2 linked regions of the Homo sapiens genome follow. The protein of the gene in region 1 purifies or fractionates together with the protein of each later gene. This does not show direct contact. Each region holds a gene or a part of one and is shown in the gene's direction. Other genes may lie near its edges.

Region 1 (7,024 bases):
TATCATCATTTCTGGGATGACTCTGTGTGCTGTGTGCCCCTAGGTGGAGGTGAGCCCTCTGGAGAATGCCATCCAAGTGGTTGAGAATAAGAACCAGGAGCTACGCTCCCTGATCAGCCAGTATCAACACAAGCAGGTGCATGGCAACATTAACCTGCTAAGCATGTGCCTGAATGGTGTCATTGATGCAGCTGTCAATGGAGGCATTGCACGCTATCAGGAGGTAAGCTGTGGCCACAGGCCAAACCCATGCAGCCAGCCTGGCCAGGAAGGCGGCTCACAGGCTTCTCTTTTCAAGATTATAGTCTCCTTAGGTAGCCTTCCCTACATGCCCTCTCTTGACATGGTCCTGGAATGAGGCCCTAAGCTCCCTATCACTCCCTATTTCTTTGGCACAGTTTGGTAGGGCCTTTTCTTCATTTTTATTCTCTGAACTCTAAGATGGGTAATCTGTAATCCTGATTATGGGAGGATGTTAAGTGCCCTCCAAGAGGAGCCTTGGAGCCCAGCCCGTCAGGAGAAGTGAGTTGTAGGCTGGATAAGAGGCTAGCCCCTACTCCCAGTCCACCAGTCCTGCCTGCCCTACCTAGGCCATCCAGGCTCCATGAGGGACTGGGGTCAGCATCCAGACTTAGATGGCTTGGCCACGTTCAGTCCTTCTCAGACAAAAAAACACACCTCTAATTGCCAGAAGTTCAAACAGGCCAGACTGGTGTATGTACCTATGAGGAGACAGCCTGGCTGCTTTTTAGGTGGCATTAGTGGACTCAAGTCTCCTGGGCCCCACTTAAGTAGTAGTCCTGGGAAGAGTCTTCCTGACTTGGCCTTTCCTTTCACAGGCCTTCTTTGATAAAGATTACATCAACAAGCACCCAGGAGATGCTGAGAAGATCACCCAGCTCAAGGAGCTTATGCAGGAGCAGGTATGTCTTGGAGGGCTTGGGAACCAGCAGCCAGGTGAGAAAAGCCATGCACTACAAGATGAGCAGTTCTCAGGGGCTACTCATGGTTCACAGAGTGGCCTTGTTTGTGACTCTGATAGGTTCATGTCCTTGGAGTTGGGCTAGCAGTTCATGAGAAGTTTGTGCACCCAGAAATGCGGCCTCTGCATAAGAAGCTAATTGATCAGTTCCAGATGATGCGGGCCAGTCTCTACCATGTAAGTTGATCCCTGTCCTGCCCCTGCTGCAGTAGAACCAGGTGTCACTTCCTCCAGACCTACGCCACAAACCAAAGGAAAATAGGAGAGAGGGAGCCTGGGCAGGGGCCGGGGTTGGGGAGAGAGGCTGTCCTCCCTACAGAGGGACAGGGGGCAAGGATGGATGCTATATCCAGGGGAAGGATGCTGAGGATCCTCCCACTCACTCACTCCCAAAGGAGGAGCCAGATTCAAGGGCAGGGAACGTTTTTCAGGGCACTGTGCTAGTAGACAGGTTTTCATATGTGAAGGAAGAGAGCTAACATATATGGCCCACATGTAGGGATCTTTTTGGAGATGTTTTTCATCCCAAGAACCTAAAGAGATAGGCATGGCCTGAGCCAGCCTTCTCTCCCCATCTCCCTCCTCCTCCTCTCTCCCTGTCCTTCTTCATTCTTTCTCCTCCCTCTAATCGTTCTCTTTTCCCTCTTTTTACTCTTCCTCCCAACTCCCTTTTCTCCCTCTGTCTCTCCCTCCCTCTTATTCCCAGCTTCCTCTATCATGTCTCGTGATCCAAGCTCACATCTGAGATAGCCTAGGATGAGCAGTACTTTCATGCTAGCAGTCCTTAAAGGAGTCAAGCAGGTCCTGGGGCTGGACCAGGCTCCTGAAAGTCTCCCTAACTCTGGCCCAGCTCTTCAGCCTCCACAGTAGGGTTTGGCCCAAGGACTTAAACACACAAACAGGACTTATATTCCAGGACCAGTATTCCTTGGCAGGGTCTTAGAGGAAATGCTGACTGGCTGAGGATAGAGCCCCCTATTCACATATCCAAACCTCATTTTCAACTGTGGGGCTGACTCCAAATGTTTTCTAAAGATCCCTTCCTGCTAAACAGGCTGGCTCCCAGATCTTAAGGGATATGAGCCCAATTACCTGCTGCTACCTGGCACCCAAGCCAAGTTCTCTTCTCATCACCCAGGACCACTGGACAGAAGTGGCAGGGAGACAAGAAGTAGAGCTGTTCAATGCTGCACGAGGTTGTCATGAGCAAAAAATTCCCCCTCTAGGGATAACCATGGCCACAGGAGCCCTGAGGGAGGTTGCACTACTTAAACTCAGTGGGCCTGACCCATTTGGGGCGGACCTGCTGTGTTCTTGGATGCTGCAGGTTCTGGTCATCTCCGTCCCTCCAGGCTCCCAGTGCAGGTCTCAGCCTGTGTGGACAAGTGTGGACAGCATGAAAAGAGAAAAAGAAGCTTGTTGTAGTTTGAGAGGTAGGGGCACATTTTCCAGAGGAAAGCCTGGAGATCCTGAAATTTCTCCCTCTGTTAGGATTCTCCCATGGTATTTCAAGGTGAAATATGCAGAGAAGCTCTTTTACATCTCCGCCTTAAAATTGGAGTGTCCATTTAGTTAAGAACTTGGGCAGTATCGCTGAGTCTGGTGGGTATTCATTCCACTACCTCTCATTCCAGGGTCTCCTGCCTGTTTGACTGGTCTCTGCTGTGTGCAAACTTCCCCATCACAGCAGGTGACCCAAGCAGGCTGGAGCCTGGCCAGTGAGGAGGTTCTCTGCCATGTGGGTTGCAGCAAAAAGCACAAAACACTTTCCTATATACATCACGTTCTTCCGTGTGCACACATAGCCTTTCTCCAGCTACAGAAATACATTTTAGCCCTCTGTATGCTTTGGAAGAAGCAGGTGGAAAACCCGGTGCTTCTTCACACCAAGCTCAGAAATATCCCCAGTGGACTTAGGGCCCCTGTTCACTACAGCTTTTGAAGGACGTGAGGAAACCTTAACAGTTGTTTCCTCTGAGTTGTACACAGGGACACAAACAAACATGCTGTCACCCAGTAGGGTTTGAGATCAGAAGTGTCTGCCCAGAAATCTACATACTTAATATGAATTAATTAAGCTAAAATAGAGCTGTGCTATTTTTCAGTTACATACATCAGGATTTTATGTTCTGTCTCCCCGTAGACTGTGTCACAGACAACCCAGGTCACTAAGAGCTGGGCCATTTAGCAGTCTAATAAAACCCAACACCAATCCTTATGTAATTGGTGCCCACCTATTGACAACTAATAATAAGCTCTTCCTCTCCTTCTTCCCAGATCTTGTTCTACTTATTCCGTAGCGAGAAAACCTGTTAACACACTCCTATGAGCTCAGACCAGCTTCAGTTTATTCCAGATGTGCTTCTCTTAATGTGGAGTCAACCTGGGGCCTCGCACACGGCCTTTGGTCTAGGTTCCAGTGCAGTTAGGAGGGTGTTTTAGTCGTGAAGAGGGCATTGCCCAAAGGAAGTCAGCAGTTCAGGTTCAGCCAACCATATGATTCTTTTTTGTTTCTTTTACATTTTTGATCACCAGTCAGTTATTCCCTCACATCCCTTAGTTACTTATTTATTCTTTACTCTCTATGAAGGGGCATTCATTTCTCAACAGGAGTTTCCAGGTTTGGATAAGCTAAGTCCTGCATGTTCAGGCACCAGCACCCCACGGGGAAATGTTCTGGCATCCCATAGCCCCATGAGTCCGGAGAGCATCAAGATGACCCACCGGCACAGGTATGGCCTTAGGGCTGGGGAGGGTTCCCTCTGGAGAGGTGAGTCTAAATTGTCAAGGGTCAGAGGAAAGAGTCCTCATGTATACTCATATTCCCTCTTACCCATGCACACAGCAAACACTTATGTGGCTCCTGCCATAGGACCCACACCCTGCATTCAGTCAGTCACTATCCTGGGTAAGAGAAGTGTATACATGATACTGTGGGAACATGGAGGAGGGGGCATTTGGGGTAAGTCTTGAAGGATAAGTAGATGTTTGCTAGGGGTTAGGAGGGTGATAGGGCAAGATCTAGGAAAATCGACTGACACATGCAGAAGCCTCAAGATATGAACAAGCCAGCCTGGTCAGCACTCTGAGTAGAGCCAAGTGGCTGGAGTGCCGGATTCCAGGGCACGGAAAGGGGATAGGATCAGCTCTGAGTGGGCCTTGTTCATGCAGGCCTTTGGACTTGATCCCAAGGAGAATGAGGATCACCAAGTCAGTTTTAAGGAAGAAACAGCATAGTGATGTGAACATCAAAGACTGGTTTGCCTGGGCTCAACTGAGAATACTGAAAGCCTCTAGGCCAGGAAGGCCAAGTTGGAGGAGGAGACTAGTGAGAGGAGCCCCTCACTTAGGCTTGTTTTCCAGTGTGAGCAGCAGCTCAGCACAGAGTGGGCACTTAGTAAATAAGGGACAAATGAATGAGAAGCTTTCCTGGTATTGCTAGAGGAGAGCTATTGACAAGCCTTTTGGCCACAGATGTGGAAGGAGGCCTGCAGATAGTTCACAGCCGGCTATTTTGGTAGCTTCCCACACTAGGAAGAAGCCTCTGACCAAGAAGCAGATCCCATCATGGTGTGGGGGGGTTGGGGGGTGGGCACTGACCCAGACTAATACCCCATAGAAAGGGGAACCTGAGGTCTTTGACCTGATTTGGCATATCTCTTATTCCTCCTGAGAAACTGCTAATGTCATGCAACTGAGTGGCCATAAGCCATGTAGCTGTAGGTAGAGGCTTGTCCAGTGTACCACACCATTGTCTCTCCCAGACCAAGGGCTCCTGAGTAGCAGGGTACAGCTCAGGACTGCTCCAGGCCTCAGATGGGTATGAGCATTGACTATGGAACCCTCCAAACCGGTGGTAGCTGAAACCAGGGATGACTATTCCACACATTCCGCTCTACTGTCCCCCTGCCACCTGCCATGGGCCTGACTCCTCCCTATTTCCCACTCTTGCTCACAGCCCCATGAACTTGATGGGCACAGGCCGCCATTCATCATCCTCTCTCTCCTCACATGCGTCTAGTGAAGCAGGAAACATGGTGATGCTGGGTGACGGCTCCATGGGTGATGCTCCTGAGGACCTGTACCACCACATGCAGGTACAGAGCTGTCCACGGAGAGTGGGCCAGGGCACCATGCCTACAGAACTCACCTTGCTGTTGCAATGTCTAGTCTGAGGGCTTGGCAACCCTGCCTAATTCTCTAGCTCCTGAATTCAGAACACCCCTCACCAGAGCTAGAAAGCTGCCGTTCCTCCACACACCATCCTAAGTCTCGGTTCCCAGGCCTTATTTCCCAAGAAGAAAATCCAGCTTCAGTCCTGGTTGCTTTAGGAGATCCCACGGGAAAGATCCTCTGCCAGATTGCCCCCTTGCCTGGCATTCCTGTTGGCTTAGCCCTGCTTCCTCCATGGTCACCGTAGTATGGCCAGCCCAACAACTTCGCTCCATATGGGTGGTGTGGGTGGCCCCTAGTTGCCCAGCCATTAGCCTGGCCTCCATCAGGGCTCAGGGGATAGCATAAGGCACTGGGGCAGAACACCTCAGGGCATGAAAAAGCAAACTCTGTGCCAGCCCTAAAGTCCTGGCCATTCAGACCTCTATCCTGCTGATTTTTCTCCCTTTGCAGCTCGCGTATCCCAACCCCAGGTACCAAGGCTCAGTCACCAACGTCTCTGTTCTGTCCTCGTCCCAGGCAAGCCCTTCTTCCTCCAGCCTGAGTTCCACTCACTCAGCACCATCCCAGATGATTACCTCTGCCCCTTCCAGTGCCCGAGGTAAGGATGGCAGGGTGCTACTTGCAGAATGGAGAAGAGAGGTCTTCATCAACGCCACTCGGCTTCCTCTCATCTGTGGCTGTGTCTTTGAGCAGCCCTGTGACTTAGAGAATACTCATTTGTGCTTTTACCACTAAGGACTCGAGAGTTCCTGCCTCCAGGCCTCTTCCCTGGCTGGCTTCAGACTCCGCTCTGAGCAGTGGCTGCCGCTGTGCCGCCATTGCATTTCTACCTCAGTCACAGGACACACAGCTTAGAAGAAAGCTCACTTCTTTCCCATTGAAAGTTTTGCTAGAACAAAGATCAAAGTCTAGGCAAAAGTGAGTCTTTTGTCTTGAGGAATCAGGCATGATGACAAAGTATGAAAAGTAAATCGGGAGACTAAAATTAACCCTGGAAAATGTTATTCTAAAACAATAACAGCAACCAAAAAATTTTTCTTCAGTTGGGAAAGGCTTTCTCAGGAGAGATGGCTCTGTAAAAACCTATTTACTTTGCCAATTATTAGTTGATTTCTTGTTCAGTTGAATGAATATTGTTCTTTGAGAGGCAGCATCTTCGCATCTTTTTCACGTTCTAATCCTAGTTCCCAAGTGAAAGTTGATTCTGTCCTTGTAGACAGAAACATTTGCAGTGGAATGGAAATTAGCTGTGGTACATAGGATCTAGTGCTTCCCAGGGTTGGCTTTGCAGGGTAGTGACAGTGGTCTGAGCTTGCCAGCCAGTCACTTGCTCTTGCTTCCAGGCTTCAGAAGGAGGGAGTCTCTTTGTTCTTCTCATTATTATGAAACCAAAGAAAAATATCACAAATTTATTTATTTATTTTATTATACTTTAAGTTCTATGGTACATGTGCACAACGTGCAGGTTTGTTACTATGTATACATGTGCCATGTTGGTGTGCTGCACCCGTTAACTCGTCATTTACATTAGGTATATCTCCTAATGCTATCCCTCCCCACTTCCCCCACCTGACAACAGGCCCCAGTGTGTGATGTTCCCCACCCTGTGTCCAAGTGTTCTCATTGTTCAGTTCTCACCTATGAGTGAGAACATGCAGTGTTTGGTTTTCTGTCCTTGCAATAGTTTGCTCAGAATGATGGATTCCAGCTTCATCCATATCCCTACAAAGGACATGAACTCATCCTTTTTTATGGCAGCATAGTATTCCATGGTGTATATGTGCCACATTTTCTTAATCCAGTCTGTCATTGATGGACACTTGGGTTGGTTCCAAGTCTTTGCTATTGTGAATAGTGCCGCAGTAA
Region 2 (7,024 bases), on another chromosome or scaffold:
GTATGCAAGGCATCATGAGGTGTAATGAAGAGCCAGAATCAGTATGGGCTGGAGGCTGCAAAGTGGCTGTCTTGGCCAAGCTGCATGATGTGTTTTTAAAAATGTTGGATTTAAACTCCTCTAGGCAAGGTGGTACTTTGCAGTGTTACAGACCCTACATGGAGGCTGCTTGTTTTATTTACTTACCTGCTTGGCTGCCCAAGACATTTGAATTTATAACCCTATTAGGCATGCTATGCTGGTTTCATGTGAGTCACTAGAAAATATTTGTTGAGCACTTCTTATTTGCCAGGCATTGTATTAGCTGCTGCTTTGGAACTGATCATAACATTTTCCAAAGTTCTTCCACTGGGAAATAGTAATAATAATAGTGGAACACCAACAAATGCTTTGCCTTTTGTATTGACTTTCCTCCCGGACTGCCTTCACATATGCTCTCTTATTTTGTCAACAATACACAACATACCTGCCTAGCAGGTAGGGCTTACTGTGTTGGGGAAACGTGGTTTCAGAGCTTTTGCAGTTTCTTCAGGTTCACACGGTTAGAATTCTGCTATTATGCTTAGTGCTTTATTATCCCACTTGATGCTCACAACAGCTTTACGGGGTAGAGTTGATGCTAATCCCCATTTTACAGGTAAGAAAATCGTTAGTGCTAAGATCCAAGTTCAGGCCTTTCCCACTCCAGAACACAGCTCCTAACTTGTTAAGCTACACTTCCTCACTAGAAGGCCAAAGTTGGAAGAAAGCTCAAAAACATCTAGTCCAGCCCCCGATGTAGATCAGGACCTGAGGTCCAGAAAGGCTTGTGTTTGTGGCAAAGCTGTGCTGCAGGAGGAGGACTAAACCAGAAGTGGGGGCCTAGGCCTTCTTTTGTCCCTAACTGGTGGCATGGCCTTGCCAGCTTCTCTGGACTTCAGTTCCCTTATTTATGTAATGAAAGGGCTTGGCCTGATTTTACACTGAGAACAATGCTGTGCTGTTATGGTCAGTATTGAAGGAGTTCACAGCCCGAGATTTTAGTTGTAACCCAGGACTCTTCCCAGCACACCACACTCCCTCCCTACCCAAGCTCCATCTCCTTGTGCAATCACGGTTTTCTAAAGTTTAATTCTGAAGTTCATCTGTATTTTCCATCTCAGTTTCTGTTTCCTCTCATTTCCAAAAACTGAGGTAAGTGGTTTGTAAACACTGACTTTTTGTAAATTCATCTCTTCAGTCATTGTGGTTAGGGATTTGGAAAGTTCTAGGCAATTAATAATCCTCAGTCAGTAGTGTTTTCACTCTCTTCTGAAGGCATTTAGGTCTGGAGGCACCCTGGAGGGAATTTTCCTGTGGAATTCTGTGGACACAGCTATGTGGCAGGCAGTGTGCTGCAAACTGGGGGAAGAGTAGATGGGGGAATAGACTTAGGCTTCATGAGTCCTTGCCCTCAGGTTGTCAACTCTCCTGGAGCTGTGGGTCAACCCTGAGCATCTGAGAGTTTATAAATGACCTGGGGTGTGTGTTGATGGTGCACAACCAGAGTTGAGAACCACTGTTTCTCGGACCTTATCTGATCTAGAGCCTATGTCCCAGACTTGAACATGCACTTGAACCACCTCAGGATCTTGTTTGAAGGCAGATTCTGATTGGGTGGGTCTGGGCTCCCAGGGATACTGCCGCTGCTGGTATGCACATCACACCTATCGTAGCCAGGGAAGAGACTGCACATAGAGAATTATAAATCAGTAGGATCAGGAAGGTATGTACAGAAGACTGGGATCACAGATGAGGCTGCAATTAATTTTCCCTGAGGTGAGAGGATTAGGAAAGCCACATAGAAGAGTGATTATCTTAGCTGGGCCTTGAAGGTTGAGTTGAAGTTTGCCAGCTGGACAAGGAAGAGGAAATAATAGCACAAGCAAACATACAGACTCAGAAGAGCATGGTTTTTCAGGGAACAGGTGGTCTGGTGAGAACATGGCATCTGCAAAAGCGAATCTGAAAGCCAGTTCCACCACAGAGCCACGGTGGAACTGGAGTAAGTTGAATGCTCTGCTAAGGAGCTTACTTAAGCACTATTCTTTAAGTATAGGAACACTACAGAAGGTGTCTGTGCAGGATAAGAGAAGACCCAGGCCATTCTTACAGCAGGAATCAAGATGAAGAAACCCAAATAGTTCCCCTGCCCCCACACCCCTTCTCACCACACCTTTGCCTCTATGTAAGTTTGTGGCTTTTTACCATGTGTGAATGAGTCCTGTGTCTAACATACTTCAACAAAAAGGGGAAACCTCAGCTGCTGTTGGTATGGTGGTCCTTCCCAGGGCTTCCAGCAGTAAACATAAGAACCTTAATCTCTGCCAGTCAAATCCTCCCTTTTCTGTACCTCAGAGTCTGATCGTCATTCAGTGGACTGAACTAAGGGAAGTTGAATCACTTCTCAGATGAGAAGATTTCAGAGGGGGAAGCCTTTATAGAGATTGTGTTCTCGATTAGAAAGGGCGTGACTCCAACTTGCCTTCTTGATGAGGTTGCATTCTGTTGCAGGAAACATAAACCAAACTTACCCATGCCTCCTTCACCAAATCAAAAGCCAAATAACTGAACAAAAAGTACACATCCGTTCTTATCCTGAAAGGAATAGGGGGAAGGAGGGGAGCTGGAAACCTGGCATTCTTCATCCCAAATTCCTTACTAATAGGAGGAGATCATCTTTCACTTCATTCCTTAAGATTCGGTTTCCAATCCTGCTCTCAGAATCCAGCTCCGTGAAGCAGCAGTCACTGCATGGGTGATTGATAAAGCTCCATGGGGCTTCTGTAACAGTGCTGATTTTATAAGCACACCTTCTAGAAGCCACTTAGAGACTGCTCCATTGGAGACACTAATGTTCCTATTTTTCTCTACTTTTCCCAGCTCTGTGTTTGAAAAACTGGCCTTTCATTCTTATGACTTATAGTAAAATTGTCATCAGGTCAGTGTGTGCCTGTCTCCTGTTTTGTAGCATTTTGAGTTTTCCAAATCATCCTTATATCTGTAATGCTTAAAGAGGAGTGGAAGGTAGAAGGGTGGGGAGTTGTTTAATCCGGAAGGGGCCCTCTGGGCCTGGATATGGAACTACAGCTCCCTTATGCTGGTGGTTTGCAATTGAGCTACAGTACTGCTGAGTGGCGGAGCAAGAGGCTATTTATAACCCTGAGAATTTTGCAATGTTACTGAATTCCTTTGACCTAATTTCTACTTCCTTTCTAGAATGAAAATGAAGGGAGTAAGCAAACACGTGCTGGAAGGGTTCCCTATAAGGAGATCCTTTATCCTGGGAATATTATCTGGAGAACAGAATTATTTCTAGTCTCCTATCTCCTGATGTTTCTTTTCGATAGGGAGAAAAGCAGAGGGAGGTTTTCCTCTTTCTTTCAACTAGAGTTAGGGGTGCTAACCCTGATTTTTCAGTAAGACTTATTCTAATGTTTGATATGAAAACAACAGTTTTTTATTTTATTTTTATTTTTTAATAGAGACAGGATCTCACTTTGTCACCCAGGCTAGAGTTCAGTGACATGATCATAGTTCACTGCAGCCTCGAACTCCTGGGCTCAAGCAACTCTCCTGCCTCAGCCTCCTGAGTAGCTAGGGACTACAGGCACACGCCACCATGCCCAGCTAATTTTTATTTTTTGTAGAGAAATGTCTCGAACTCCTGGCCTGAAGTGATCCTCCTGCCTTGACCTCCCAAAGCATTGGGATTACAGGTGTGAGCCACTGCGCCCAGCCAAAACAAACTGTTAAACAATGGAAATACTGTGTAGTTAGAGGGTATTGGGACGCAGAGGGAACACCAGACAGCCTGCACAGTTCATGCCTGTCCCTGTCTGTTTGGAGCCAGCCTGGTTCACAGGAGTGGAAGAAATCAGAGCCATTGGGTTTAAGCAGACACAGGTGCTTACTGAGCCTTCACTGGACACCAAGTGCTGTGCTAGGTTATGAGACTGCAGAGTTATACCTGTTCTGGAGGAGGAGCTAGTGGAGATGTGTAAATATGTAACTGTAATAGAGTATGACAAAATCGTACTCATTAACGGAAGTATGAACAGGATGCTGTGAGAACACAGAGGCCCCTGTCCTATTTACTTTTGCCAGGGAAAGTAGAGAAAGCTAAGACTAGTACAAGGAGGAGGTAACATCCGAACTAGGCTCTGATGCTTGAATAGGAGCTCTTCTGACAGTCAGTAGGAGGAAGAGAATGTGCAAAGGTACAGAAGAATTGAAAGAACATGGCCTGCCTTATAGAAATAGCCCGTAGTCCAGGATGGCTAGATTGTAAAGGACCAAATAGCACACGAGGGAGTGTGGCCCACCTGTAGACAGTGGAGAGCTGTCTTCTGTTACAATGGTGAGTTCTTGCTGTGAAGGTTTCTTAGCCTCAGTGTGCTTTGGTTTCAGATACACAAACCAGAAATCTCCACAAAGCACCTGCTGCGGGTCAGGTGCAGAGCCACCTGCTTTCTCATGGCTTTCCAGCAACACCAGACAACCTGGTATCAAATTCTGGCTGTGCCACTTGCTAGCTATGTGACACTGAGCCTTCTACTTAACTCCTCTGTGCCTCCATTTTCTTATCTCTAAGGTGGGGATAATAACATACCACACAGCATTGCTGTGTGGATTAAATGAATTAATATATGTAAAGCCCTTAAAATAGTGCCTTAGCATTATGTAATTGCTAGCTAATGTCATCATCTAAGGAAGTATTATATAGAGCGATGAGAACTCGCTTTGGAGTCCTAAGACCTAGGCTTGAGACCCAGTTCTGATGTGTTGGGTTGATTTAGTTTTATTTCTTTTCCCTCCCTTCATTTTTTTTCTTTCCTTCCTTCTTTTAGGAGGGAGGTGTAGAAAGAGGTACATGGAGAACAAGTTTGTCAATCCGTCTGAACTTCAGTTGCCTTACCTGTAAGGTAGGAATGTTTTTCAGAGTTCTTATGAGCATCAACTATAATAATGATATAGAAGTGAGCAATCAACTATAAAGAGGCTACCTGGGCTGGGCACAGTGGCTCACGCCTGTAATCCCAGCACTTTGAGAGGCCGAGGCAGATGGATCACCTGAGGTCAGGAGTTCAAGACCAGCCTGGCCAACATGGTGAAACCCCGTCTCTACTAAAAATACAAAAATTAGCTGGGCGTGGTGGTGAGTATCTGTAATTCCAGCTACTCAGGAAGCTGAGGCAGGAGAATCGCTTGAACCCAGGAGACAGAGGTTGAAGTGAGCTGAAATCATGCCATTGCACTTCAGCCTAGGCGACAAGAGCAAGACTCCATCTTTTAAAAAAAATTTAAAAAAATAAAAATAAAGAGGCTACCTGTACGTTACTACTAGATATATGATTACTATGAAGTTACCATATAACCGATCTGTTTCAAACAAATCAGACTTATCTAGTGGGTAAGAGCAAACCCATGGGTTTTGCTCTCATTAATTCAGCCATTGTTAATTAAGTGCTTACCCAGTACCATCATCATATGCTAGTGATGCTGCTGTCTGCTCAGACCTCCGTTTTAGAGTTCCTGCAGAGCTTGGGGGCAGCTGTGGTCTTAGGCGTATTAGTTGCAATGAGTAGAAACATAGACTAGCTTAATTTATAGGAGTTTTATTGGCAGGATACAGTGGACTTTCAGGTACCCCGAGCATAGGAAGTAATAGCCACATAATCTGGAAAGTTAGCAGGTAATGGCTTTTCCATCTCTTTCTGATTTCTGGCCTCAGTTCATTTAGATATTTATGGATTCCTCCTGCAGAATCACTTCCTCTGAAAGGCTCTTGGTTTTTTATTCTCCATATCTTTGGCTCGTACGGATCTTTGGCTTGCCATGGTATTCGCTCTGAAGCTTACTATGATCTTACTTCTCCAGGGTCATTATCACCCAGTTCCCTTAGTCTGTGTCTTTTATTTGTTTGTATGTATGTATGTGTGTATTTATTTATGATGGAGTCTCATTCCGTCGCCCAGGCTGGAGCGTAATGGTGCAATCTGTGCTCACTGAAACCTCCGCCTCCTGGGTTCAAGCTGTCCTCCCTGCCTCAGTCTCCCGAGTAGTTGGGATTACAGGCGCCCACCATCATGCCTGGCTACTTTTTGTATTTTTACTAGAGACGGGGTTTTGCCATGTTGGCCAGGGTGGTCTCAAACTCCTGACCTCAGGCGATCCACCCACCTTGGCCTCCCAAAGTGCTGCGATTATAGACATGAGCCACCACGCCCAGCCAGTCTCTGTCTTTTAAATTCAAGAGAAAGAACTGGAATAGTTCAGCTAAAGTTGGGTATTCACTTTAGTCCCATCAGCTATGGCAGGGTTGTGGAGAGTGTCATTCAGTTCAGAGAGGCTGCCTGGGCTTTGTGGGAAGGACAGAGTCACTGAGAATGGGGGCTTATTAATATCTTTCAAATAGTTTGGTGGTTGCAAATCTCCATGCTTTAAAATGTATACGAATTTTTGAACAGCCGAGAATCATTCAGGGCTAACTTTAATAAAGAGAGAGTCAATCTAGGATATGTCATATGGGGTCAAGAGAAAATAATAGCTATAACCTAATGAGCTTTAGCTTAATCTCCAAAGACGGCGTTCAGAAAGGAGTTAAAAATCATGGGGTTTGTTTCTTAGCAGCACCATCGAAATTAAGGAAGGGTGTAACTTCATTTGGTAAGGACTTTAAAATGGGCATCCTCACTTGGATTTTTTAAATTCCACTTAAGAATCATGGACTTTTAGACTTAGAAGGCACCTGAGACATGCTTTAGTTCTACACTCACATCTTTCAATAGAAGAAAACTGAGATTTGGTTAAAGGGCCATGTATACATTGTGAAAGACCTAGGATTGGGTCCTGAGGCCTTTGGTTCTAAATCCAGTCACTTGTTTCAGCAGGGACAATTATCCCAGCCCAGTGTTCTTTCTGTTGTACCTTCTGTGCCTGCTTATTTTAAAAATAAGAAGAAGCCAAACTAAACAAATGATCTAAAAAGTCATATCGTATAGTT

The links. Proteins that work in one complex are often made in the same cells at the same time.
Region 2: the proteins of DOCK3 (region 1) and ELMO2 purify together in Homo sapiens (affinity purification with mass spectrometry; 2 studies listed by BioGRID and IntAct, with this or other methods). This does not show direct contact.

Annotation. Positions count from the first base shown.
Region 1 is NC_000003.12:51,356,919-51,363,942, forward strand, and holds part of DOCK3 (dedicator of cytokinesis protein 3), read left to right. Parts: intron 1-43; coding exon 44-223; intron 224-839; coding exon 840-923; intron 924-1,042; coding exon 1,043-1,159; intron 1,160-3,592; coding exon 3,593-3,714; intron 3,715-4,940; coding exon 4,941-5,079; intron 5,080-5,608; coding exon 5,609-5,756; intron 5,757-7,024. UniProt on the Homo sapiens protein: Potential guanine nucleotide exchange factor (GEF). GEF proteins activate some small GTPases by exchanging bound GDP for free GTP.
Region 2 is NC_000020.11:46,396,616-46,403,639, reverse strand, and holds part of ELMO2 (engulfment and cell motility protein 2), read left to right. Parts: intron 1-4,868; 5' UTR 4,869-4,943; intron 4,944-5,620; exon of another isoform or gene 5,621-7,024. UniProt on the Homo sapiens protein: Involved in cytoskeletal rearrangements required for phagocytosis of apoptotic cells and cell motility. Acts in association with DOCK1 and CRK. Was initially proposed to be required in complex with DOCK1 to activate Rac Rho small GTPases.